4 linked regions of the Homo sapiens genome follow. The protein of the gene in region 3 interacts with the protein of the main gene of each other region in a biochemical or structural test. Each region holds a gene or a part of one and is shown on either strand. Other genes may lie near its edges. The genes, in order: SYTL5, GOLGA1, RAB6A and BICD2.

Evidence for each region.
Region 1: the proteins of RAB6A (region 3) and SYTL5 form a complex in vitro, tested with the Homo sapiens proteins (one study listed by BioGRID).
Region 2: the proteins of RAB6A (region 3) and GOLGA1 interact in far-western blotting, tested with the Homo sapiens proteins (one study listed by BioGRID).
Region 4: the proteins of RAB6A (region 3) and BICD2 form a complex in vitro, tested with the Homo sapiens proteins (one study listed by BioGRID).

What each region holds. Positions count from the first base shown.
Region 1 is NC_000023.11:38,100,544-38,107,572, reverse strand, and holds part of SYTL5 (synaptotagmin-like protein 5), read right to left. Parts: intron 5,232-7,029; coding exon 5,139-5,231; intron 4,548-5,138; coding exon of another isoform or gene 4,482-4,547; intron 981-4,481; coding exon 802-980; intron 1-801. UniProt on the Homo sapiens protein: May act as Rab effector protein and play a role in vesicle trafficking. Binds phospholipids.
Region 2 is NC_000009.12:124,889,066-124,896,094, forward strand, and holds part of GOLGA1 (golgin subfamily A member 1), read right to left. Parts: intron 1,414-7,029; coding exon 1,324-1,413; intron 472-1,323; coding exon 369-471; intron 239-368; coding exon 78-238; intron 1-77. UniProt on the Homo sapiens protein: Involved in vesicular trafficking at the Golgi apparatus level. Involved in endosome-to-Golgi trafficking. Mechanistically, captures transport vesicles arriving from endosomes via the protein TBC1D23.
Region 3 is NC_000011.10:73,675,126-73,681,091, forward strand, and holds the end of RAB6A (ras-related protein Rab-6A), read right to left. Parts: intron 4,596-5,966; coding exon 4,529-4,595; intron 2,838-4,528; coding exon 2,773-2,837; 3' UTR 513-2,772; downstream 1-512. UniProt on the Homo sapiens protein: The small GTPases Rab are key regulators of intracellular membrane trafficking, from the formation of transport vesicles to their fusion with membranes.
Region 4 is NC_000009.12:92,712,814-92,719,842, forward strand, and holds part of BICD2 (protein bicaudal D homolog 2), read right to left. Parts: intron 6,770-7,029; coding exon 5,726-6,769; intron 5,136-5,725; coding exon 4,984-5,135; intron 2,651-4,983; coding exon 2,341-2,650; 3' UTR 649-2,340; coding exon of another isoform or gene 643-648; 3' UTR 1-642. UniProt on the Homo sapiens protein: Acts as an adapter protein linking the dynein motor complex to various cargos and converts dynein from a non-processive to a highly processive motor in the presence of dynactin.

The sequences.
Region 1 (7,029 bases), on a different chromosome or scaffold from region 3:
AGTGGCTCGTTGTTCCTAAATTGTTTGTACAAACAATATGGCTTATGCTGAACGGGTTCTTTTTCTCCTGAGAGACTGGAAATTTGGTATGTGACCAGCTGAGTTTCTAACACGCTTCCTTGGCAGACAACATTTCACAGATGTTGTCAGAACTCATCGCCAGAGGAATTAAATGCATCCTATGTGACTCCACTGGGAAAGGACCCTTGCAAAGCTTGAGCCTGATCTCTCCTGGACTTTGCCCCATGTGCCTCTTTGCTGATTATAACTGCGTGCAGAGTCCTAAGTCCTCCTAGTGAATCACTGAACCTGGCAGTGGTCTTGAGAACCCCTGACACACCTTTATATCTAGCTTCTCTCCAGTGTGCTATGGTCCATACCTGCCCTCCCAGGCTGATCTCTAGAATCCTGAGAGCCTCATAATTGCCCTTTTGAGTTGTTTAATTGGGTAACAGTTTGGTAATTTTCTCTGGAGGATTTCCCAGAACAGAAATCGACAAGATGCTTTTGTACATCCTGGGTGTGCCAACATGTCAGCATTCTACTTCAAAGAGCTGCCTCTGTGTAAATTGCAAATATGTCAATCCTGAATTATGTTTTAAAAATCAGTTAATCAAAGACACAACCAGTATACATTTGCTTCAGAGAATATTTAAAAGTGTGGTATAGGAGGAACATGACAATCAACTCTCTGAGAAGACTGAATCAAGAAGAATGCTAAGACTCTTTTGAAAAGGAAACACACATACAGACAAAAAAGGCAGTGACTGAAATAGTCTGAGGAACATGCTATGTGCTTACGCATCTGTCCTCTGTTTCTTTTCATCTCCTATGGCCAGATTTCTGCAATTCTTGACAAAAATGTACAGCCCACCAGTTTTGTAGCAGTAGCTGATATGGAGAAGGATTTCACCACTGACTTTCACGTTGCCATAGTCTCCCGTTTCACTGTAAACGCTCATCATGCTGTTAAGGCTGGTCTGGAATAAACAAGATGGAAAAAGGCTTCTAGTGTCATTCTAATGATCTCTTCACAGAATCAACTCATTTCATTCAATTATAGTTCCTGTTCTTTATAATGAGCATGGAAGTCTAGGGTGAGGAAAGAAAACAAGAGTCACTTGTTTGGCTGGTGTTGTATAAAATCCCAGCTGGAGAAAAGACAGCAGATCTAGTACCATCAGGAAAAAAGGCAGAAAATTTGCTTAGAGGGGAAGCATTTCCTTCTTGGGTTAGAGAATACCCTTTGCTTACTCACTTCTACTAATGAATACAGGGTAATTGAGGCATTTCAAATCTCACTTCTCGTCTATCTCTGCAGCTTTCTCCATTTTCACTGTTAGACTCAAGTTCAATCTACTATAAGGTGTAGAATACATTGATTGGGACAAAGGGTAGCTTATCTCATATTCTGTGCTAGCAGGAGCCACATACTGCTTTCTTTGACACCTACATGGAGCATCCCATCAGTCTCCGGGGAGCCATAACTACAGCTTTAACAAGGACATATCAGAAGAACATCACATACCCACAGCTTCCATGATTTCCCTCAACTGAGTAGCTAGCTGTGTGGCTACATGAGTAGTATATGACCATGGCTTTGTAAATCTGTATAAAGTAGCAGCCCACAAAATAAACTACTACACAATAAAATCACACACCAACCAATCAGGAAAATAAATTTTAAAAAAGTCCAAATCTACCAGAATGAATGAGGCTTTTGACAAGACACTAATGACATGAGACAGCTTTTAATTTATAGTAGTCCCCCTTATCCACAGTTTCACTTTCTGTAGTTTCAGCTACCCATGGTCAACTGCGGTTCAAAAATATTAAATGGAAAACTCCAGAAACAAAAAATTCATAAGTTTTAAATTGTATGCTGTTTTGAGTATGTGAAAGGAAAATATCTTGGGCACCCAAAATCAGAAAGCTAAAGGAAAAAGTCAAGCTGGGAACTTCTTAGAGCAAACCTGCCTCCCATACTACTCAAAGTCATCCCCCTGCTCACTGAGATAAGTGCATATCTAACTGCCTCCTTTGGAGAGGCTACTCAGAAACTCAAAAGAATGCAACCATTTGTCTCTTATCTACCTATGACCTGGAAGCTCCCTCCCCACTTCGTGTTGTCACGCCTTTCCAGACCCAACCAGTGTTCATCTTACATATGTTGATTGATGTCTTATGTCTCCCTAAAATGTATAAAACAAAACTGCGCTCTGAGCACCTTGGGCACACGTTGGCAGGACTTCCTGAGGCTGTGTCAGGGGTGCCGGTCCTCAACCGTGGCAAAATAAACTTTCTAAATTAACTGAGACATGCCTCAGAGTTTTGGGGTTCACAAGTAGCATGATGAACTCTCACATCATACTGCTCCATCCCACCCTGGATGTGAAGCCTCCCTTTGTCCAGTTGGACACACTGTAGGAGCCACACTGCAGATGCTACTTGCCCATTAGTCACTTAGCTGTCTCAGTTATCAGATTGACTGTCCTGCTATCACAGAGCTTGTGTTCAACTCATTCTTATTTTACTTAATAATGACTCCACAGTGTAAGAGTAATGATGGTAGTAATTTACATATGTCAAAGAGAAGCCAAAAGTGCTTTCTTTAAGTGAAAATGTGACCTTGGTGTTTCTTGGCTAGGGTTTGGTACTACGCGAGGTTTTAGGCATCCACTGGGGTAGGTGGAATGTATCCTCTGTGGATAAAGGTGACTACTGTAAATGTAATAAAATTATCCTTTGGCACTAGAAATGAAAACTATGTATCTCAGTAACTGTCACAAAAGACCACCTGGAGGTCTTTCGTGGATGACCCAATAGTTTCAAAACCACTTTTCTGTGAACCACTGGGAAGTCAAGACTATGGTAAATACACAGGGACCTTAGACTGTCTTCTTTTTCATAATTTGCTTTTGGTAAAAGCCATTATGTTCCACCAATTTCTGGAAGTAGAGACTGACCAAAGAACAGGATGTGGGTGATGTGGTCACATGTCTTCTAAGCTTCTTCACGGGCAAGAGCAGACCAATAATTCCATAATTATTTGGAAATTACAGCTTAAAGAAAGCCAGTGAGTGACCTAATCTGTCTTTCTTATTCCTAAAACAAAGCAACAGAATTTTCATGTTTAGCAGGTGGCTTTGAGCAGCACCCAGATACCTTTTTAAACTGAAAACGCTTATCTCCTCAGTCTGGGGTGAGGTCTGAGATTTGGCTGTTCTAACAAACTCCTAGGCCTGCAGTTCCGAAACTGTGTATCGAGGTACCACAGAGCACCACAGCAAACTCACAGGGGAATCACAGAAATATTTTAAATTCTCAAGGGAAACACAACAACACCTATCAGACACCATGTAAGCCACTAACTAGTAATTCACAGTGTCAACTTTAAACCACACTTTATTCTTTTCAATGAACTCCTATTTGTCTGAAGCTGAGTTTTTGGCAGTTGCTGCAACAAAAAGCAAGTATTGCATAAAAATCAATGTGAAATGGGAAATGAAAGTAGTGATGTCCAATCAGATTCCAAGATTTGGTAACTGTGTAGTGCTCAATAGGCACACATATCCTATTAGTGGTAAGTAATAGGTGCTATTTAAGGATGAAATAAAAATACTATTTTTCTTTCAATTTCTTTCACTTGTAGCATTTTTTTACAAATGGCTAGTAAGTTGTTAGGATACACTGCTTATTACATTATTTGGTTCTAACTACTTAATGAATGGACTAGTCAGGTGCTACTTTTAGTGTAGGAGTGCCAGGAAAGAATTACTGAGACATTAGGGGCTTTTTGAACTGAGAAAGTTTTGGGGTATCTGTTCCGAGAGATGCAATGTTGCTGGTCCATAGAGAATGCTTTGAGTATCAAAGGTTTCAAGAATAAACCCCAACCTACTCATGTTACAAATGAGAAAATTCTGGCTCACAAAAATTGTTGGTATGGCCAAGAAATAAAGCAAGATCTCCAAGTTTCTAGTCTGAGGACTACCCCACCATACCTGATTACCTCCTTATATCACTGATTTGTGTCTATACTAGATCTCTGTAGCCACATTTTCAAAGAAAATCCTCTGTAAGCAGAGGGCCCCTACGGATAGAAGGAAATTTAGGAACCCACAAATACGGAGGCTTGTGAGAAACTAAGACACCTATGGCAATTTTACTACTAACTAAACTATATGCTCTTAACCAAGCTAAGGCTGTGATTTAAAATAGTTGTTTACTTCAAAGGTTTTGTTGATAGTTAATCATTTTAGAGCATGTGTCTTTTGAGTGGTGTTCAGATTCCAATGTTTAATGAATTGGAATACTTGGTTTCTGATCATCTCATCAATCTTTTAGAAGATAACCTCTGGTTAATTGTATATAAGTCGGAAAAAGATAAATGTGGGACAAATTGCTTAATCATAGTTCCCAGACCATGAAATTTGTGAAGTATGGTTGGAAAGAACAAAAAGGAAAGGTTGAAAACTCACAGTGTCTGAGTCAGCATCAGGCACATTTAGGTAGGTCCACTTCCTGTCAGAACCTGCTTGAGAACTCTTTAGAGAAGTCATCCAAAGATCAAAAGAAAAAAAGCATCAGAGCAACAGAAATCAGAGAAGCCAAGAAAAAGACTTACACACAGTTAGATACAAGGACACAGGGCCTTCCTCTCAAAAAAGGCCTTGAACACTAAAGTAAGAAAGGACTTTATTTTGTAGGCAGTGGGAAGCTATGGATGGGTTTTGAGTAGAAGACAGACCTGATTGGGCATGTGTTTTAGGATAAATGACTGGCAGCAGTCTGGAGGACAGCTGGGAAGTTTAGAGAATGGTGTCAGGGAAATGTGTCAGCAGATAATTGAAAAATAATTTATAGGCTTGAGCTGACTGAGCCTGAACTAGGGAGTGAGGAGATTTTAAAACCTGGGTGAGGACTGTGGAAGAAGGAAGAAATCAGGAGCCTGAGAAAAAACCCACACCAAATTAGACTGAAATGTACTCTGTGGGCAAAGGGCAAGCAGGATCTTACAATGACTTTTAACTCATTATCACACATTTTCCTAAGAACATTCATATCTCCTTTGGAAATGCACAGAAAATCAAAAAGAGGGAAAAGAAACTTTCCACATGTCCTAGTGAACTGCTTACAGTTGATAGGCCACTTGCCAGACGGTGAGTGTTTGTAGATAACTGCGAGGACACTAAGGCATCAATGCTTTCTTCAGTCTCTTCCAAGGAGTCCTAAAAAAGAAAGGGAAAAATCAGTGGGTTGGTTGATTTGTTTTTCTAGAATGTTTTTTCACTTGAGAAACCACTTTCTTTCATAAATATTTGAGAATCAGATAAAAAATTTCTAGAAATCACTCCATTCCTAGGTTTTTCTCTTTTCCTCTCCGGTCAATCTGAATTATACCATCGGAGAAGTGGGCAGGGATAGGGGGTGGAGAGTGAGGTCTCCTTTCTAATGGTGCTTACTTTATTGAAAGAACATGAAATTTGGAATCATACAGACCTGGGTTCAATTCCTACCTCTAAGGTGATTCATGTTGGGCAATGTACTTACGTTACTTTAAAATTAAAAAAAATTTGTGTGTGTGTGCAAACACACACACACACACTGCCAAGATGGTAAAGCATATCTCAAAAATCTCTCCACTAGGATGAACTAGATACTGGACTCTCATCTCCAATCCCAGATTCTACTTTTCCTTTCCCATTTCTTTTTCTCCTTCATGATAAAATGGCTTTTTTTTTTTTTGCCTAGTTATTTAAGTGATGTATTTTCCTAGTAAAATTATTTCAAGCAATATAGATAAATGGAAACTAAAAACTTAGGTCTCTCATTAACATATTAATGATCAAATTTCAATATTTTTGATTATATCATCACATATATATATACACACACACATACATATATACACACACACACATACATATATACACATAGATAGATTGTATCATGCATACTGCTTTTTATTATGGGCACTTTTCTTTTTTGCTTCTCCTCTCCTCCTTCCCCTCCTTTCACACCAGGTGAAATTAATATTTAGCATCCTGCTGCACATGTTACATTCCATGTCTTTCTCCTTGTTTATGTGAAAAATCATATAAAAACATACACAAATCTGAGTATAAGTATACATTCATGGGAATTTTTTTAACTATAGTTTTATAAATCAGGATTATGATGTACACTTCTGGGCTTGCTTTAAAAAAGTCTTTATTATAAGATACAGCATATTAAAAAGTACATAAAACATAGATATATAGTATAATAACAAAATCAAATGATGAAGCAGAAGCTCCCTGTGTATCCTGTCCATATCACAAGCCCCTTCTCCCCTCGGGAATAATTAATATTTTAACTCTTATGGTTAACCACATTCTTGCTTTTATTTATAGTTTAACTGCATAAGCGTATACTCTGAAACAAAATGATTTCGTTTTGCCTGTTTTTGTACTTTGTGTAAATGTAATTAAATGCTATATATTCCTTTGAGTTTTGCTTTTTTTGCTTAATATTGCCTTAAAATTCATCAAAATTGTGGCATATTTTTGTAGCCTGTTCATTTATATTGTCATTTAATATTCCATTGTATGATATCCAAAACTTTATCCATTCTCTTGTTGCTGAATATTTGGGTTATTTTCAGATTTTTTTCTATTGTGACCAACACTGATATGTATATTCTGTGAATATGTATCCTGGCGCATATACACACACCACAGTATACACACAACACAGTATATATGTTCACACACTTGAATATATACCAGTGAGAGGAATTGTCAAGTCAAGGGGTGAACATATCTCCACGTGCTTATCTATATCATTTTAAAGATAATGTCAAATTTTCAGAAGTAGTTACACCAATTTACAGTCTAACCAGTAGTATATGAGAGTTCCCTTTGCTCCACTTCCTTGCCTGCAAACAGATGGTATTGTTAGATATTTTTTTCATTTTTGCCAATCCAGTAGATGTTTACAGTCTTCATGATTTTAATTTTCATTTCTCTTATTACTAAGTTGAATACC
Region 2 (7,029 bases), on a different chromosome or scaffold from region 3:
GCTGCCTCCTTAGGGGCACTCTCGGCACCTGCCCTGCATCTTGCTGTAGCACCCATGCAGGTGCAGCTGGGACTTACGTGCGACTCATTGACTGAGAGTGCTTCGGCCTGCAATGGGCCCCGCAGCCTCAGCAGGTCCTCCTGCTCCGCGACCACTGCAGCCTCCTCCGCCTTGAGGGTCCTCAGGGCCTCCAGCTCGGCCTGCAGCTGGTGTATCTGCAGCAGGGCAGAGTTGTGACCTAGGTCGGGGAGGAGGGGAGGGGGCACTGTGAGCCCAGTGACTCCATGCTGCTTGGTGGCAAGGCCGTCACAAGGCAGGATGCTGGGCCTGAAAAGGAGAGAAGGCTCAGCCAGGGACCGACTCCTCACCTCGCTCCAGCTGGAGAATCTCCTGCTCTTTCTGGAGAAGCACTTCGGTTTTTTCCCGCAGATTCTGTTCCTTCTCGTCTATTATGGCTGTCAGGTTAGCTGCCTTGGAGAGAAAAATCAACAAGAGGGAAGGTTGTGAGCAGTGACTCCATCTTCCCACAGAAATCTCCACTTCCCCGCTCTCCAGGGTACACCACGAATCCCTCCCTGAAGTCCACGACCCAGAGCAAACCCCCAGCTAAGCTCTGCTCCTATGAACATGCACAAATCTATTCTCCTTGGTAGGGGCCCTGCACAGGGGCAGTCGCCTCCCACTGCCCCCTGGCCAACAGTGGGTCAACCAGAGACGTGGCCATTCTGCCCAGCCCAACAAGCTGTCATAACTTCCATTTCCTGAGTGCCTGCAACATCCCCAGCACTAGACACGCATTTGATATATGTTGCCTCATTACAGAATAGTTTCCCAGAGGTGTAAGTAGAAGGCTAGAGTCCTCATCAGAGGAGACTCAGATTTGTTAAGGACTTACCAAAGGCCTAAAGCCACTTAACTAGAAGCTCTGGGGTCAGATGCAAAGTCTACCTTCAAGGGAGGCTTTCCCATACTTCCTGCAAAAACTCAACCCAACCTTACGTGGCCTCTGGGGCAGGTGGGCAATGATAGGTCACCTCACAGAATTAGAGCCCACTAGGCCCGTGGACATGGACCACTTTCCAGGTAATTATAGTTGAAAAATCAGAAAAGGGCATCCTATGGGGTAAGAGTTTCTTTATAACATTTGTCTCCCAGCTTCCTAGAGAGCACAGGGGCCCACGCAGCTGACTGCATTCCCTGAGTCCTGAGTCTACTACCCTACCCTGGAGAGACAGGCCCTCTCCAACAGTCTCACGGCAGGATGGGCCTGCTGCCTGTGGGACTGCAGGGGGACATCGCCCCTCAGCGTGAAACAGGGCCCACCTGTTGCTGGAACTCTTCCCTTTGCTTCCGCACCTCCTCCAGGGCTTGAGCCATGGCCACGCTCACAATTTCTCTTTGGCTCCATTCTTCCTACAATGCAGAAAACCACTGAGCCCCAAAACTTAGTTCACAGTTTTTTAGCTGTATGCCACGCAAGAAGCCCAGCAGACAGGGCATGGCTTTGCAGAGCCAGACCAACATGCTCCCCACTTCCCAGGCTCCCAGCCTGGCCCCTCCCTGCCATGCCCTCAGTATCCCTCTCAGAGCTATCCTGGCAGGCAACCCACCGACTTCTCTGGAAATGGCACACCACTGAGGATCGATTGCCCCACGAGCACCCCCGCCAGGACCCACACCAAGGCTAGGGGCCTATCCTGAAGAGCTGGTCTAAGGACAGTAGCCAAGAACAAGAAGTCAGACTCGCAGGCCACGTGAATGGAGTGGGGGACTGGAACAATTGGTTATGGAAAGAAGAAGAAGTAATGACCAGGGACGGTGGCTCACACCAATAATCCCAGCACTTCAGGAGGCTGAGGTGGGAGGATCGCTTGAACCCAGGAGTTCAAGGCCATCCTGGGTAACACAGTGAGGATCTGTCTCTATAAACAATAAGAAAAATTAGCCGAGCATGGTGTCACATGCCTGTAGTGCCAGCTACTCAGGAGGCCGAGGCGAGAGGATTGCTTGTGTCCGGGAGGTCAAGGCTGCAGGAAAATGGATTCCTTCAAGCATCAGCTAGTGAGGGGCTAGGCTGACAAGACAGAACTGAGTCTCTGTGGCTCCAAAGTCTGCCCTAGCGCCTCAGAGCCACCTAAGATCCAGCACTGTGGGAGGTGGGGTTGACAGTGCCTGCTCAGGTTCACTGTGGCACAAAGCAGGGCCTGCAGCTTGCAGAAGCCACCAGGCCACCCATGCACGGCTGCCTCTGCGATGATTCTCCAGGATGGGCTTAGGGAACAGCTGCTTTGAAGAGCGTGGATGGAGAAAAACAATTCTAAATGTATGTGCACCTAATAGCAGCACTTCAAAATACATGAAGCAAAGACAGACAGAACTAAAGGAAGAAAGAGACAAATCTACCATCGTAGTGGAAGACTGAGCACACCCTTCTTAGTAGCTGATGGAACAAGTAGACTGTTAAACTAAATATGGCCTTGATCTGTCTCACCCAGAGCTTAGCGATTTTATTCACCTTCAAATAATCCACCTCAGGCTTCAGCAGTCCTCGCTACTATGAGAGGGTCCCATTCTTTTGTTTTTTTTTTTCTTTTTTGAGATGGAGCTTCTCTCTTGTTTCCCAGGCTGGAGTGCAATGGCGCAATCTCAGCTCACTGCAACCTCTGCCTCCTGGGTTCAGACGATTCTCCTGCCTCCCCCTCCCGAGTAGCTGGGACTACAGGCATGTGCCACCACACCCAGCTAATTTTTGTATTTTTAGTAGAGACCGGGTTTCGCCATGTTGGCCAGGCTGGTCTCAAACTCCTGACCTTAGGTGATCTACCTGCCTTGGCCTCCCAAAATGCTGGGATTACTGGTTTGAGCCACTGCGCCCAGCCTCCCTCCCTCCCTTCTTCACTTCATTCCTGAGACAGTTTCATTTTTGTTGCCCAGGCTGGAGTGCAATGGCACGATCTCAGCTCACTGCAATCTCTGACTCCCGGGTTCAAACAATTCTCCTGCCTCAGCCTCCCAGGTAGCTGGGATTACAGGCATGTGCCACTATGCCCAGCTAATTTTTGTATTTTTAGTAGAGATGGACTTTCACCATGTTGGTCAGGCTGGTCTTGAATTCCTGACCTCATGTGATCCATCCGCTTTGGCCTCCCAAAGTGCTGGGATTACAGGGGTGAGCCACCACGCCGGGCCCATTTTATTTTCTATTTCATTAATTTCTGTGCTTATATTTGTTATTTCTTCCTTGAGTTTGATTTGTGCCTTCTTCTGACTTTTTGAGATGCATACATGGCTCAATTTTCAGGCTTTCTTCCTAAGAGATGCCACTGAGACTGAAATTTCCTTCCATGCACTGCTTTAGTTATACTTGACCAATTTTGATCCACAGTATTTACAAAATCATTTATTTCAAAATATTATAATTATTTTTTTGAGACAGAGTTTTGCTCTTGTCACCCAGGCTGGAGTGCAATGGCACAATCTCAGCTCACTGTGTGAGCCACTGTGCCCAACTTTATTTCAAAATATTTTAAAATTTCCATTGTGATTTTTTTCTTTGACCTATGGGTTATTTGAAAGTGTATTTCAGGCTGGGCATGGTGGCTCACGCCTGTAATCCCAGCACTTTGGGAGGCAAAAGTGGACGGATCACCTGAGGTTGAGAGTTCGAGACCAGCCTGACCAACATGGAGAAACCCCATCTCTACTGAAAACACAAAATTAGCCTAGTGTGGTGGTGCATGCCTGTGATCCCAGCTACTCAGGAGGCTAAGGCAGGAGAATCGCTTGAACCCAGGAGGCGGAGGTTGCAGTGAGCCGAGATCACGCCATTGCACTCCAGCCTGGGCAACAGGAGAGAAATTCCATCTCAAAAAAAAAAAAAAAGAAAGTGTATTTCTTAAATGTAAACATATAAGAGTTTTCTATATGTTTACATTTAAATTTTTATGTTTTTGGAAATGGGTTCTTGCTCTATCACCCAGGCTGCAGTCCAGTTTGTGATGATAGCTCACTGCAGCCTCGACCTTCTAGGCTCAAGAGAGCGTCCTGCCCCAGTCTCCTGAGTAGCTGGGACTACAGGTGTATGCCTTGATGAACTGTGATGAAACCATCACCCTAATAAAAATAGTAAAAATACCCATCCCCCAGAAAGCTTCCTCCTGTCCTTTTGTAATTTATTGTATTAATTTCAGTTATTCTATTTTTCAGGTCTAAAGTTCTATTTGATTCCTTTTTTAAAACTGCTGTCTTTTATCATAACTATAATAATAGAACTATTCCACATCTTGCTGAAATTTTAAATTTTGTCTTTTATCTCCTTAAACATAGTAAGCATATGATATCTGAGCCCTTGTGAGTCTGTTTCTTTTGTGTTGTTTTGTATTTTTGTTTACCTATCTTTGATTTTGTTTTTTCTAGTCACCCAGGAGCACTAATAACCTGGGATCATTTTAATCCAAAATTAGCTAATGGGCTTTTCCTGGGCCACCCCGTGTCCTTCAGTTAGTGCAATCAAAGCTGGGGGCGGGGTGCAGATGGGGTGCTGGTTACTTCCCGTTCAAGCTTACTCCTAGCGTGTAGTCCTGTGGTGTGCCTAACCAAAGCTTTCAGGATCTCCCAGGCTGGATCCAAGCTTTAATAAAATTTAAACTCCAAATTTTATTCCCCTAACTCTGAGAAACTATGAAAAACTTAGATAAACTTCCAGCCTCTTCAGGATCAGCAGATACCACCACGGCAAAAGCTGCTTTGCATGCTGGACTCCCGTCCCTGGGCAGGATGGGCCATTCCTCAGTCCTGTAGGCTCCTACAAGCAGATGTTCTCTTATTTTGGCCAGTTTTTCTGGGAGTCCTCAGGTGAGCTGGTCTGAATTACCTAGTTTGCCTTTACTGCAAGTGGAAGCATCTCTCTAGTCTCATTTTAACCTGCTCTCGTCAACCATATTCCCTACGACTCTACGGTGACTATTCTTCCCAGCGTTGCCAACAAACTCAGTCTCGTCAAATCTAATGGTCAGCTCTTTGTCTCCTTTCTTGACCAGTTGGCAGCATATCACAGAGTTCACTACTCAATCCTTCTTGTAGCGCTTTCTGCCCTGTACTTCCAGAGCCCCACATGCACCTGCTTTTACTGCTACCCTACCTGCGGCTCCTTTGGCGTCTTCTCTGTCGGCCCCTCCTTTTGTTCTGAGCCTGTGCTTGTGGGTGTGGCCCTGGCCTTCATTTTGGCCTCTTTTCTATCTGCACTCATTGATAGCCATTTGGCTGTAATTTTGCCTATGAGCTATGCTGATTGATGGTTTCCTAATTTAAAGTTTTGTGTGTGTGTGTGTGTGTGTGTGTGTGTGTGTTTGAAATAGGTTCTTGCTCTGTCATCCAGGCTGGAGTGCAGTGGTACGATCTTGCACACTGCAAGCTCCGCCTCCTGGGCTCCCAAGCAGCTGGAACTATAGGCACACAGGCTTCCTAATTTATATGTCTACTCAGAATCTGCTCCAATTTTCCAGACTTGTCAGCCTACAGACTACTAGATATGCCTGTTGGGTAGGCCTCTGAAGCTCAACATGCCCAAAATGGAATCCACTCTTGACATACCTCCCAGGACCCCCATCTCAGTGAATGGTACGTACCCTATTCATTCAGTTACCCCAGTGGTTCTCTGCCAGCAGTGCTTTTGCCCCCACAAGACATTTGGCAATGTCTGGAGACACTGTGGTTGTCCTAAGTGGGGCTGCTACTGACATCTAGTGGGTAGATGCTCCTAAGCATCTTATCATGCATATTTGCAGCAAATACAACAAAGAACTTCCACAACAGAGAACCTCCACAACAGAGACCCATCCAAAACAGAGAACCATCCACAACAGAGACCCTCCACAACAGAGACCCATCCACAACAGAGACCCATCCACAACAGAGAACCCTCCACAACAGAGACCCATCCACAACAAAGAACCATTCACAACAGAGAACCACCCACAACAAAGAACCATCCACAACAGAGAACCACCCACAACAAAGAACCACCCACAACAGAGACCCTCCACAACAGAGACTCTCCACAACAGAGAACCATCCACAACAGACTCTCCACAACAGAGACCCTCCACAACAGAGACCCTCCATAACAGAGAACCATCCACAACAGAGAACCATCCACAAGAGAGAACCCTCCACAACAGAGAACCCTCCATAACAGAGAACCATCCACAACAGAGAACCCTCCACAACAGAGAACCCTCCACAACAGAGAACCATCCACAACAGAGACTCTCCACAACAGAGAACCCTCCACAACAGACTCTCCACAACAGAGAACCCTCCACAACAGAGACTCTCCACAACAGAGACGCTCCACAACAGAGAACCCTCCACAACAGACAACCCTCCACAACAGAGAACCCTCCACAACAGAGACCCTCCACAACAGAGAACCCTCCACAACAGAGACCCTCCACAACAGAGACCCTCCACAACAGAGAACCATCCACAACAGAGACCCTCCACAACAAAGAACCACCCACGACAGAGACCCTCCACGACAGAGAGCCTCCACGACAGGGAGCCTCCACGACAGAGAGCCTCCACGACAGAGAACCATCCACAACAGAGACCCTCCACAACAGAGAACCCTCCACAACACAGAACCCTCCACAACACAGAACCATCCACAACAGAGATCCTCCACAACAGAGAACCTCCACAACAGAGAGCCTCCACAACAGAGAACCATCCCCAACAGAGACCCTCCACAACAGAGAACCCTCCACAACAGAGAACCCTCCACAACAGAGAACCCTCCACAACAGAGACCCACCCACAACAGAGACCCACCCACAACAGAGAACCATCCACAACAGAGACCCTCCACAACAGAGACCCTCTATAACAGAGAACCATCCACAACAGAGAACCATCCACAACAGAGAACCTCTACAACAGAGAACCATCCGGCCTCAAACGTCAATAGCGCTGAGGTGGAGAAACTCTGAGTTATACAAACCAAACCTAGGTGTCATCTACAATTCCTAT
Region 3 (5,966 bases):
TTCAGCTATGGTTGTCCCAAGGCAGGGGTTGCCCTTTTCTCTGTAAAGGGCCAGATAGTAAACAGTTTTTTGGGTTTTAGGGCCATAAGGTCTGTGGCAGCTATTAAGCTCTGCCATTATAGTGGGAAAGTATGGCTGAGTTCCAATAAAACTTAATTTTTAAAACTGGTTCCAGGCTGCATTTGGTGGGAGGGCCACAGTTTGCTGGCTCCTGTCCCAAGGCAAAGGTATAGTTAGGAGTGAGGACGCAAAAGCAGAACTTAAGATGCTTTTCTTAATATGTCCTATTACTGCCTCCACCAGGGGATGTATCTTTCAAGTTGCAGCCCCTCTCCCCCACCCCCCAACAATACCCCCATCAAAAAAAGAGTCTTTGACTCCCTAGGAGTTCCTCACATTTGTTGTTGTTATTTTTCTGGATTCTGTCCATGTCTGCTTTAAAGGTCTTCCCAGAGAGGGAGAAGTAAATGCTAATTCACCATCTTGGCAGGAATGGGAAACCAGGTCAATAATTGTTTTCTTTCGTGTTTTATTTATATATTTTTGGCAGCAAAATTGTGTTTATTAAAAAAAAAACCTGGACTATGAACACACTTCAATGCTTTGAAGAACTCCAAGCCAAATAAAAAGACCAATCAATATTAAAAGCAGTATAACTGGTTACTTTCTTAAAAATACATAAAAAGAATCAAATGCAACAGTGTAGGAAGACAATCACACCCATGTCAGAAGTCACAACTTCTTCCAAATAAAGAATATGACCCATCTGCCATATTGAATCAATATTTATTTCAGGACATGCCATGTCAAAATAAAACAAAGAGTCAACCCTTGCCTTTAACAATTATATTGTATTATAAAAGCACTTTACAACTCCATCCCATCTTTAAGTATAAGTTACTGGTATGTGGGCTAATGATTATCTGTAAGCATTTCTCTATTCAGATCCATAATCCAAGTGCTCTCTGAATATTACAAGGTGACAATAAGTGGGAAGTGGAGGAGGAAGAGGAAAGAGAGGGGACTAAGGTTCTCCCAGTTTAAGGTTTTGTTCCAATGAGGGGATGAGGAAGTATGAAGATATTTTTGTTGTCTTTTCATCTTTATACTGTGTTAAGTAATGCTTACAACATAAATTCAGCAGGCTTTTCCTGAGCTGTAACTCAGAAGTTTTCGTCCTGCAAACAATGTATTTACAAATGTGTTTATTAGCTTACACAGCAATCTCACAATAACTAGTAAAGATTAAAAGGGCACACTCCTAGTATATTTGTTTGCAGTGTTTTAAGGGAAATACATATTGCCATGGTGAAGCTCTAAATAGATTCAACGAAACATCTGAAGATTGAAAGTTGTTAAAAAAAAAAAAGGCAAAGAAATAAATATCACCAAAGAAAAAAGATTAATTGTAGCTTAAATATAAAACTAAATCACCAGTTAATTAAACTATACAGATCTAATACAAACCAAAACCAGCCTGAAAGACCCAACCTTAAAAAATGCTAAAAAATAAGGCATAAATCTGCATAATATTGAGTTTTATTTCCATTCTCTCCTTTCCCTCTACTATGTATGCTTTACCTGATCTGCCTCTAGGGGCTTACAAGAAAACGGTTTCCGGTTTCCGTCTTCAATTTGACCTCAAATGTCCTGAGCAAAGTTTTTGTTATTCTGCTGAGGGTTCTTTTGTTGGTAAGCTTTAGACATCATTATTTCTACTAATTCAGTAGTTTTGATCGTAGCGCCAAATTTAAATTCTTCCACTGGTTCTTCTGGAAGGAATTAAAACTTTTACAGTGCCTTGCCTGCACAGTATTATGTTTTTAAAAAAGAAAACCCAAGCAAAATCTATTGCTTAAAGAGGTTTCTTATTTTTTAAACAAACAGAATAACTCTTGACAATTTTAAAACCTTGGGAGAAACAGTTCATTAGAACTTCATTTTCTTACCGTGAAGAATTAAATACTAAAAACCTGTTCTGAAGCACTTGGTTAATTTTCTCTCCCAGAGTCTAATAAAGCACATGTGAAAGAGCCATTTGTTTTAGTCAGAAATACATCTTATGTTCTTCTACTTCTAAGTACTCAGTATGTTCTTTAGGACTCATTTTGAAGATGCACCAGGAGCCTTTTCTCATTCAAGCACTGCCTACCATGATGGCTGAATTTTGACCTCAAAGAAGACCGTAATTTATATCAGTGCTCAAGAATAATTTTGGACATCTTGGTCCGTAGCCTACAGCAAGTGGTATCTGTAAAATTAAAGGATAATTCCAATGGGCTTGGTAGAACTGCTGCTTTGCCATCTCTTGTTTGTTTTGAGGAAGTCGGGGGAGGCTAGGTAAGAATAGGGTAATAGGGAATGGGGGTAAGTGAGAGGTGAGAAAAGCAAGGAGAGATAAAGTAGGCTGTGAACATACCGCTCGTTAACCAAGCCATACTCATACTGTTGAGATTTCCATCATTTTGAAGTACATTATCATAACATTAAAAAAGAAAAAAATGTTAAGAAAATGTATCTAATTTTTAAAGTTATCACTGGAATATGCTGAAATATTTTGGCTTTTTGTAAAATATAAATAATGAAGACACTGACTTTTGTTGTGCTTGTGAAGCTAATAGATCATCTCCACGAGACAGGCAGCAATGATGAATTGCAATACGTTATTACTGAAGGGAAAAGGTTCAAGCCAATATTCACACTGCAGTCAATGAAAGAGTAAGGGGGCCAAAGCAGTGAGCTTCTGAAGAAGGTTGAAGATGACATGGGAGATTAGCAGGAACAGCCTCCTTCACTGACTGGTTGCTCCTGAGGCTTTTCCAGTTTTATGTCAATCACTGAAACAAAAGTTAAGAAGCCATAAATGGGAAAGTACAATTTCAATTCTTCCAAACACTAGCATTTCTGGGATGGCCCTTATATTCCTATCTGTCTTCAGAGCCTACACACTCACTATTTTCTACATAGCCGCCTCACCATATAAGGTGCTCAAATGGAATAAACTTGTTTATATCTACTATATGCAACAAGGGTCAGAATGAGGTACAAGCTCTATTTATGGGTATCTATCCTAAGGAACTTATTCTACAGTGGCAAGAAGTGATATGAAGATGATGTTCCTCATAGAATCATCTATAATATAAATCTGAAAATAGCCTACAAGATAGTTCCAACAGCAGAGGAAACATTTAGTAAATAATGGGACTTCAGGCCGGGTGCCGTGGCTCATGCCTGTAATCCCAACACTTTGGGAGGTTGAGGCAGGCCGAACACCTGAGGTCAGGAGTTCAAGACCAGCCTGGCCAACATGGCGAAACCCCATCTCTACTAAAAATATAAAAATTAGCTGGGCATGGTGGCTCATGCCTGTATTCCCAGCTACTTGGGAGGCTGAGGCAGGAGAATCACTTGAATTCAGGAGGCAGAGGTTGTGGTGAGCTGAGATTGCGCTGCTGCACTCCAGCCTGGGCGACAGAATGAGACTCCATCTCAAAAAAAAACGGCGGTGGGCGCGGGGACATACTTCAACTCAATAGAACATTTTTTGTTGTTGTTGTTGTTTTGTTTTTGAAACATATTATGTTTTATGTTGTTGTTGTGTTTTTTTTTTTGGGGGGGGAATGGAGTTTCGATCCTGTTGCCCAGGCTGGAGTGCAATGGCGTGATCTCGGCTCACTGCAACCTCTGCCTCCTGGGTTCAAGCAATTCTCCTGCCTCAACCTCCTTAGTAGCTGGGATTACAGGCGTGCACTATCACGCCCAGGTAATTTTTTTATTTTTAGTAGAGACAAGGTTTCTCCATGTTGGTCAGGCTGGTCTTGAACTCCCGACCTCAGGTGATCCACCTGCCTTGGCCTCCCAAAGTGCTGGGATTACAGGCATAAGCCACCGCGCCCGGCCTGTTTTATGTTTTTTATGAAAACATATAACATTTACAAGTGGGAAGAGCTGAATACAAAGTGCTACAAACTATATGGCTTAATAAAAATGCCTGCATATGGAAATACACTAGAAGGTGAATATGAAACACTGAAAACATCAAATTAAAAATCCTTAGAATTAACTAATATTAGATGTCCCAATCCTTGGAAATGAACTAATATTATGTCCTGTTTCTGAAAGCAGAGGCTACAATAAAGCTCCACTCTATTTCTTGCCTGTGTCAAGTAGAAAGCTCAAGTGTTAGAAAAAGAAATGAAAATTTGATATTCCATGAGGAAAAAGCCTAGAGTCAATGGGACTCAAAATGAAGAGGCAAGGACACAGGGATTCTAAGAGTTTCCTGCTCATTTAAAAGCAAGCAAACAAACACAAAACCTCTCACTGATTAACAACGAGAAGCAGGCTGCAAAGGGTGCACTTGGATAACCAGACCTCATTTGCTATAGAAAACAAATGAATTTCTATGCCTTTAAGTCATCAGTTCCTGGTTGTAAAAGGCAATGGCACAATATTCTTTAGCCAAGCAAGCAGGGCTCTAAAGACTAGTGTTAATAATGAAAAATTTCCAATGAAATAAAAAGGATACTATCTTCTCTGCTTCTGTCCTGTGTGCTTTCCATTCCCGGCAAAGCTGCTGCTACACGTCGAAAGAGCTGTGGGAAAGAGAGAAAAGTGATAACTGAGAGGGAACATTTAGCAAAGGGTACTGAGGTTTATGATCACTGTACAGTGAGCTGTCTAATGCTGGGCGCAGTGGCTCACACCTGTAATCCCAGCACTTTGGGACCCACCCGAGGTGGGCAGATCACTTGAGGTCAGGAGTTTGAGACCAGCTTGGGCAACATGGTGAAACTCTGTCTCTACAAAAAAAAACACAAAAATTAGCCAGGCGTGGTGGCACACGCCTATAGTCCTAGGTACTGGAGAGGCTGAACCTGGAGGACTGCTTCAGCTCAGGAAGTGGAGGCTGCAGGGAGCTGAGATCACGCCACTGCACTCCAGCCCGGGCAACAGGGCGAGACTCTGTCTTTAAATAAATAAATAAATAAATAATAAAATAAAATGTCTATTCATTCTATAAACGAGTATTATATAAAAAGCAATATACCAAATACAAAGAGGTATAAAGACATGATTCCTGTTTTTTTAACTGGTGGGATAAGACAAAAGTAAACAGCTATGAAATAAGCAGCAAAAATGTCATTTGAATAATAAAGTATTACAGAAACGCAGAAAAAGGACAGATCATTCATTTAACAAAACTGTATAGTAGCATTCCTATCTTTCATATAAAGAGTGAGGTTCAGGGCTGGACGCGGTGGCTCACGCCTGTAATCCCAGCACTTTGGGAGGCCAAGGGGTGTGGATCACGAGGTCAGGAGTTCAAGACCAGCCTGGACATGGTGAAACCCTGTCTCTACAGAAAATACAAAAATGAGCTGGGTGTGGTGGCACATGCCTGTAATCCCAGCTACTTGGGAGACTGAGGCAGGAGAATCACTTGAACCTGGGAGGCGGAGGTTGCAGTGAGCCAAGATCACGCCACTGCATTCCAGCCTGGGCGACACAGCAAGACTTCTTCTTGGCGGGGGTGTGGGGGGGAGAGTTAGGTTCTGAAGTCAGTGTATAATATATTGTGAAACTCAGTCCAGTCAAAATTATCCTTCATCGTTCATTAGAAAAGCACTATGTTAGAGATTAATACACCACCCCTCAAGTCCAACACAGCTGGCTTTTCTTCCATCATTGGAATGAGTGTCAGTGGGAGTGGCTGGCTTGTGTTTGAGGTATGAAGCTATGAAAAGTTATCTTCAACAGGAGAAACGCACTCAAGCCTGGTGAGATGTTTACTTTTGAGAGGCATATGAGAACAGATACTGGAACAACAGTTTATACTTCTTATATTGTCCCAATCTTAGGCATACACCCACTGGGTACAACAGCCAGTGAAACTGCCTGATTATTTCAATTATTTATCTTTTAATTAAGCACACAGTGTAAACCCATAAATTAAATGCATATGT
Region 4 (7,029 bases), on a different chromosome or scaffold from region 3:
TGAACATGGCATTTAAAATCTGTAATTTCAAACATGAACCACAATGCCGTATGATCTAAAGGCTGCTGAACCACAGCGTGGATACACTTAGCTGAGCTCCTCGCTGGGTCAAAGCACTCATCTCCGAGTCTAAAGCTACACGCTATGGAGCACACAGCTCTGCCTCGTGCTGACACCAGACAAACACGGTGGGAGCTGAGGCGGACAGCTACAGGACCACGAGCATAGACCACGGCACCTGAGACCGTCTCTACGCGAGGAATTAAGGAAGCAAATATAATATCAAAATATCAAAAGTGCACAGGTTGATCGGATAAAAAAAGAACATGTGTAACAAGGAGCCCCCGTGGTGGGCGTTTCCAGTGGGCTCCTGGCGAGCCTGGCAGCCAGGGAAGAAGGGTCTTCGGCCCATACAGAGGCCTTTCCACGCAGCAGCTCGCAGCATGCTCAACATTAAAGCTTTTTTTCCTCCCATTAAAAACCTGGGGAATGCTATTTTGAAAAGAATTGCAGTGGCATATCCAAAAAGTTTCTAAGTGGGCTTTTAGGTTGCCCTTCCTTCCTCCTTGTGGGCCACGAGAGGGAAGGGGAAGGGGCTGCAGTGTGACAGGGCCGGGTGGCCAAGTCCTCCTGGCAGCTACTCTACAGCTGAAAACGGGAGAAAAGAGAGCGTTAGAAAGCGGTCATCTGTCGCTTCCTGTTTATCTGACAATTGAAGCTCTCCACGTGCTGGGAGGGCGCGAGCACGTTAGTTGGCAGAAGAGAAGACCTGCATGTGTTAGCAGGGGTCCCAGTGGCTTGGGTGTCTGCAAAGTCCCTTAGGAGTATGGAGAGAAGCTATGTGCCAGGCTTGCAAGGAGAGGGCAAAGCGCATGCAGGGTGGGCATGCCAGCAGCCATCCCACTGCGAGTCTTGCTGGGGCAGGGGGATCTGGGCCCAGGATGAACACGCAGGGGACATACATGGGCGTGTCCTGGAGTCTGGAGGGGACCGAAACATACTCGGCACCAAAGGGAAGAACGCGCAGGGCAGAGAGCTGTGGGAGGGGGCAACACGGTCTCTCACCAGGTAACTCGAATGCCTCTTCCGCATGAGAGACAAGGCAAGCAGCCTGCAGGAGAGAAGACTGCAGCCTCAGGTCCAGCTGGTCCCACAGGGTGATCGGGAAAAAAGTACTGAGAAAAGTTCTGCTCAGAATGTGGGAAGGCAGGTGTGGATGGAGCCTCTGGAAATGGGAGAACCCTACAGCTACCTTTCCTCTTTCTCTGTTGCCATCCCCCAGATTGCACTAAATAAAGAGACCTAAACATCTCCTACCTGTGAATCCTGACAAGTGGCCCTGGCCCTATGCAAAGCTTTCCCAGCACCGGGCTGGGCTCTGGATACACCTGTGGGTGTCCAACCCAGCCAAGCCCTTGGTGGCTCAGACTTCAGGCTAGGGTTTTCAAAGCCCCATGTCTTTGGGACTGAACCCCCTATGGAAGGCCGGATAATTGGCTGCTGGGGTCACCCCAAGTACAAAAGGACGGGCTCTGCACTAAGGACCAAGGTCTGGCCAGGCACTTGGAAAGCTTTTCTCATGAAAAATGAAAACCTGGGGCCTTGGGCCCTGCCAATCTGTCACCTCACAGGCCACTATACAAGCATCCTGATCTCAGAAATGAGAAACCGAGCTCTGGATTCCTGGGTTATGGTCAGCTGTGTCTGTGCCATGTGTGTCTGGCCAGCAGAATACAGGGGCTCAGGGCTGCTCTTCTCTGGGCTTGGGGAAGAAATTCTGCACTTCTTTCCTGAATATGATTTGCAGTCAGATACTGCATAAACTACAACGTACTCCTTTCCATGAAACTATGCCAAGTGCAAAGCCATCCTCTGAGGTCGTACCTATGCTGCAGGCTGGAACCTCCTAAAACTGCTTTCTAGTGCTGACATTAGACACATGCGAGGAACATGCAAGTCTCAACTCAGGTTCTGCCCCTTTTGGGTGCTGAGGGAGCAGGACCAGGACTCCTCCCTTGGGTTTCCCCACGGGTGCGCAGGGCTTAGAAGATGCTTTCATCACACATCTGCTGCAAGAATGTGCAGCTCTATCCCCACCTCTGACCCCCACCTAAGAGAGCAGCTGAGGACTGGGTGCTCCTGAGGGGGCTTTGAGGAGTGAGAAGCGACACAAAGCTCTCACAAGTGTCCTGCTGATGCAACGCCCCATGGCGCCTCGGCTAGACTCCTACCCTCTGTGCATTAGTCACGTTAAGATTGACCTAGCACCGCCGTCCCGCTGCTGCTGGGTTAGTTGAGGTGAAGCAGATGTTAGCTGCAGCGTGCGGCGCCCCACAGCCCCTAATCACAGTAAATGCTGTGCTTCTCGCTGCAGAACACCTGGTTGGCCAGCCCGGTGCCCTCGGCCCTGTCGCTGGCACAGGCACAGGTGTGACTTACGCTCGGTGTGGCTGGCTTGGTCTTCGGGGCGGCTTTGGCACGGCCACGCCGGGTCTGCTCATGGTCCAGCTCGAGCAGCTCCAGCCGCTGGGTCAGCGCCAGCTTCTGCTGGATGGCCATGCGCAGCAGCGAGTTCAGCGTCTTCTTCTCGTCCTCAGCAGCCGCCAGCTGCCGCTGCATCTCATCCAGCTGTGTAATGTACTCGTCACACCTGTGGGTACCAAAAACATGACTGAGGGGCGGGCAGAGCCGAGCAGAGGAGGGCAGGGCAGGGCAGGGCTAAGCTGCACGGCCCTCTGACAGCCCTATACCAGAGCCATCCTTCAATGTGGCCTCTGGACTGGAGGGTGTGGCTGGGGAAGAATTATTCTGGCTTATTTTAGCACAGGCTTTGCTTGGACAAATCCCTGATAAGGGTGAGAGGGAGGCTTGGGCCCAGGCAGGGCAGCCCTATGAGGCTGGCTTGAGTTTTGTGGTTTTGTGGGGGAGGGGCTGCTTTGCTCTTTCAGCTGCATGTAGTGCTTACAAACAGGCTATGCCCCTCAGCGACTGGGCTTCTTCTAGGAGGCGCTCTCCCCGCTTAAAGGCCTCGAGGTGGCCTGGGGCATCAAGACATGGAGAAGCCATGGCTTCTAGGGTGTGGATGTAAATCTAAGCAGGACTGGGCTTGTTCCCAAGGTCGATGCTTCGTCAGTCTGTGCTGAGCACTGACCAGAGCCAAGGAACCACGTGTGTGGACGCCATCAACAGCTTCATCCTGAAACCCGGGTGCGGAGCTGTGGGAGGGTGTGGTCTGTCCCTGGATGCCCTTCTTCCACATGTCCCATATGGGTGGGGCTTGGTAGAGACAAAGGGCGGGTTAAATCCCAGGGCTCCCAGGGCGGTGAGGCTGTGCAGGCACTGAGCACAGCCCCACCCTGCCCACACGCACCCTACTCTGCCTGTCCCCACCTGCCAGGAGCCGGCCCTTGGATAGCACCCTCTCCAAGGACTCTGCTGCCCACCCTTTTGAGGGCACACAGAGCTGTGATCCCTGCAGATTCAAAATCTTGGCTCCATCTGAAAAGTTTTTAAATAAAACAAATTTTAAAAGGTAGGGTTTACATGCCAGATACTGAGAAACTGTGGGATTTTTTCCCCAAGCCCCAGGAAGACAGGACGCTTCCAGAGAAATCCTGGGACTCTTCCTTGTCTGTACCCTGCTCTGGCACGTCCTGCAGGGATACTGAGAAACTGGGAGTGCACGGCACCAGGCTTGAGAGAAGCAGGCCCTATGTGCATGCAGTTCCCACCCTGTCCAGCTCAGATCCTCAGCTTGCTCACCCATAAAAAGGAAACATCTAGGTTATCTGCTGGGCCCATGGTGGGCCTGGCTGTCCCCCATGCAGGGCTGACCCCATGGTGCTATCCCAACATGACCCAGCAGGTGGCGCTACCCATCTTTGGAAAGTGAAAGACAGCGGTACCTGTCAGGGGGCACCTGGGAAGATGCTGAAACCAGGACCTGCCCCACAGAGGCCTGTGAACACTTAGGGAGCCTCGATTCCCAGCCTTGGGGTCTGAGTCCCAGCCAGGGAGGGGTGTGCACCCACCAGGGGCAGCCCACCTCAGAGCCCATTACTAAGAGCCCTCCACAGAGGAAGAAAGAAAGCTGGTCTCCTCCAAGCCCCGGCCCTCTCCTCACCCTCCCCAGATTGGCAAAGTAGAGGATGGGAGGTGAGTACCCAGCGGTCACAATGACGCAGAGGTACAGGGCTATGCACAGAGGTGGGACCCGAACTGTGGACCCCAGCAGTGACCTGCTCCAGCCAGGAGGATAATCTTCCTTCTGAATCTACAAACATAAATACACACTTGTGCCATATGGCCAAGTTCTTGGGGGCAAATACCTCATGAGAGGAAAGGCCAGGACTCCTCTGTCACCTGTTGGCCCCAAGTTAAGTCCCTGTAAATGTTGGATTCAAGGGGTGGGAGCCCAAGCATCCCCTGAAGCTATGCAACTCTGGCCCATCCACTCCAGGATCTGCTCTCCTCAGCCCTTCTGCCCTCAGTCTCCATATATGCAAAGCAGAGACAAGCCTGGGCCTGCTGCGGTTTCATTCACAGCAAAATGGAACCGGCGCCACAGAACCAGGCTCCTGGGGGCTGGGCTAGGTGCAAAAGGAACATTAAAAGGATCACACACGCTCTGCTATCCCCGGCCACATGTGGGCACCTGCCAGGCATGCCCTATGCTCCAGCAACTGCTTGCGTGACCTCGGAGGAAGCTGAGGTGCAGCAGCTAGGGGCCCCCAACCCCATGTGGCCCCCATATCGCCTCACCCTTTCTTGTCACCAACTTGAGCACCAGTGTGCCAGAGATGTGCCAGGGGCCATGCTTCCCCAACCTCGTACCATGCTGGCCCTGATGGAGCTGGGCACAGCCACTGACTAGTCAGGGCTGCAGGCCTCAGCATGAGGCAGTGAGAGGCTAAGGGTTCCAGAGGCAAGTGCTGAGGACAGCTGGCCTTGTGGAAGGGGAGGGCCCGACAGCAGCACGGTTACCTGGTGGCAAACATAGCACGCAGCGAGGAGAAGGTGGCTGCGTCCTCCTTGAGGGCCTTGAGCTCATTGCGCAGCTTCATCATGGTCTCGGTAACCATGGCCTTCTCATTCTCATACTTGCTCTTCAGGTTGGCAAGGGCCACCTCGGCCGTCTGGGGGACAGATGTGTAGGGTGGAAAAGTGAAAGGCGTGAAGTCAGCCTAGAGGTGCTCTGGGAGCAGGATCGGGAGCCCCGGTCTGAAGTGGTGGCAGTGCCTGGGAAGAAAGCTCCTGGGAGGCCCCTCCCTGTGACAAACCCTGGGGATGGACTCCAGCAGCTACGCCATGGGGAGTCCCACCTGCTGATTCTGACTGGCAGAGGAGGGACTGCCCCTAAACCTGCCAACAGGACCTCCACGAAGCCCCACAATTGCTCTCCACAGCTCAGACTATGGCTCTCACATGTTTTCCCTCCAGTATCAGGAAGCACTACGAGGCAGTCACAGTGAGTCAAGGGCAGCGGCATTTCTCACTGGCTGAGCAGCTCTGCTGAGGGGCCCTCACACCCACCTGCCTGCTCCACCCTCCCAGCTGGGGGCCCTGAGCAGGGGAGGGTAGGCAGTCGAGCTACTATGGGGCTGGCTCTGTCTGGTGGTGACGCAGGCCTGGGGGGGCCCCGTGGCAGGGGGAGGAAGGAGGCCAAGGGGGAAACACCCTTAGGCCAGTAGTAGGTGACATGTGCCCCTGCTGCCTGGCACCTCACCTGCTTGTTGGCCTTGAGCACAGTGCGCAGCGTGGTGATCTGCTCCCGCTTGGTGCTGAGCAGCGACTTCAGCTTGAGGATCTCCTCCATAAGCGCTTCCTTGTCCTTGTCCACGGCGGGGCCCAGCTCCTGAGAGGCAATGCGCTGGCGTGACAGCTCCGTGGTGCGGTCCACGGCTGCCTGCAGGTGCTTGATCTGGTCACGGATGATAGCGATCAGGTTGTAGATGTTCATGGGCTCCCGGCGTGGGTCACTCAGGGGTGATGGCAGTGAGGAGCCAGGCGAGGGGCTGCTGTCCCCCGTCCCACCATCTGCTCGGCCCGCCTCAGGAGCCAGCAGCCCCTTGGGTAGGAGGATGGGTGAGCGCCGGCCACGCGCCTCGGGGCTGGTGCGGCCCCCGGGACTGGTGCGGCCGGCCCCGCCCTGGCCCTCGCGGTAGTAGTCCAGCATGACACGGTTGGGTGTCTCATTGTTGCACATGCACACGTGGTGGTAGAGATTGGCCAGCTCCTCACTGAAGGTCACCAGCTCATCCTGGGCCACACTCAGGCTGCCCTGTGTCTCGCCGGCGACGTCGCTCACCTTCTTTAGCTCCTTCTCCAGCCGGGCCAGCAGCTCGCGGTCCTGGCGGCTGGCCTTCTCTAGCAGGGAGACCTTCTCCGTGAGTGCCTGGCCCTCAGCCTCATAGCGGCCCTTCTCCTCGGCGTGCTGGGCCTCACGAGCCTCGTGCGTGCTGCGCAGTGCCTTGAGCTGCTCGCGGAGCTCGCCAGCCTCAGCCACAGCCACATGGTACTTGCAGGCCAAGATCTCAGGCCCGTTGATGTCCACCTCGTAGTAGTCCCCATCCTCATGGCTGTCACGGTCCTTCTCGTTGTCCAGGGCTGTCTGCCGCTCCTTGCTGGCCTGCAGGCGCCGCAGGGCACTCAGATTCTCTGTGAGGCGGGTCACCTTCTCCTGCTGTTCTGACAGGGAGCCCCGCGTGTGCTCCAGCTGCTTCTGTGTGTCCTGCAGCGTTGCCAGCAGGCCCGCCTTTTCCCGCTCCATCTGCAAAGGCACAGGCAGCAGGACACCATGTCAGTTGCTATGGACCCCGAGAGCTTGGAGGACCCCCAAGATGGCCTAGTGACATCCCACCCCATGTCAGGGCAGGCTGTCAGCCCCAGGTTCCTTGGCCATGCTGTCAGTGAGGTGGACAAAGACACACAGGGTGTGGAAAGAATGGAATTCATGCTGGGCCCTCAGAACACTAACCGTCACCAGTAATGGTGGTCACCCTCAACGCAGGCTCTTTCCCCAACCATGCT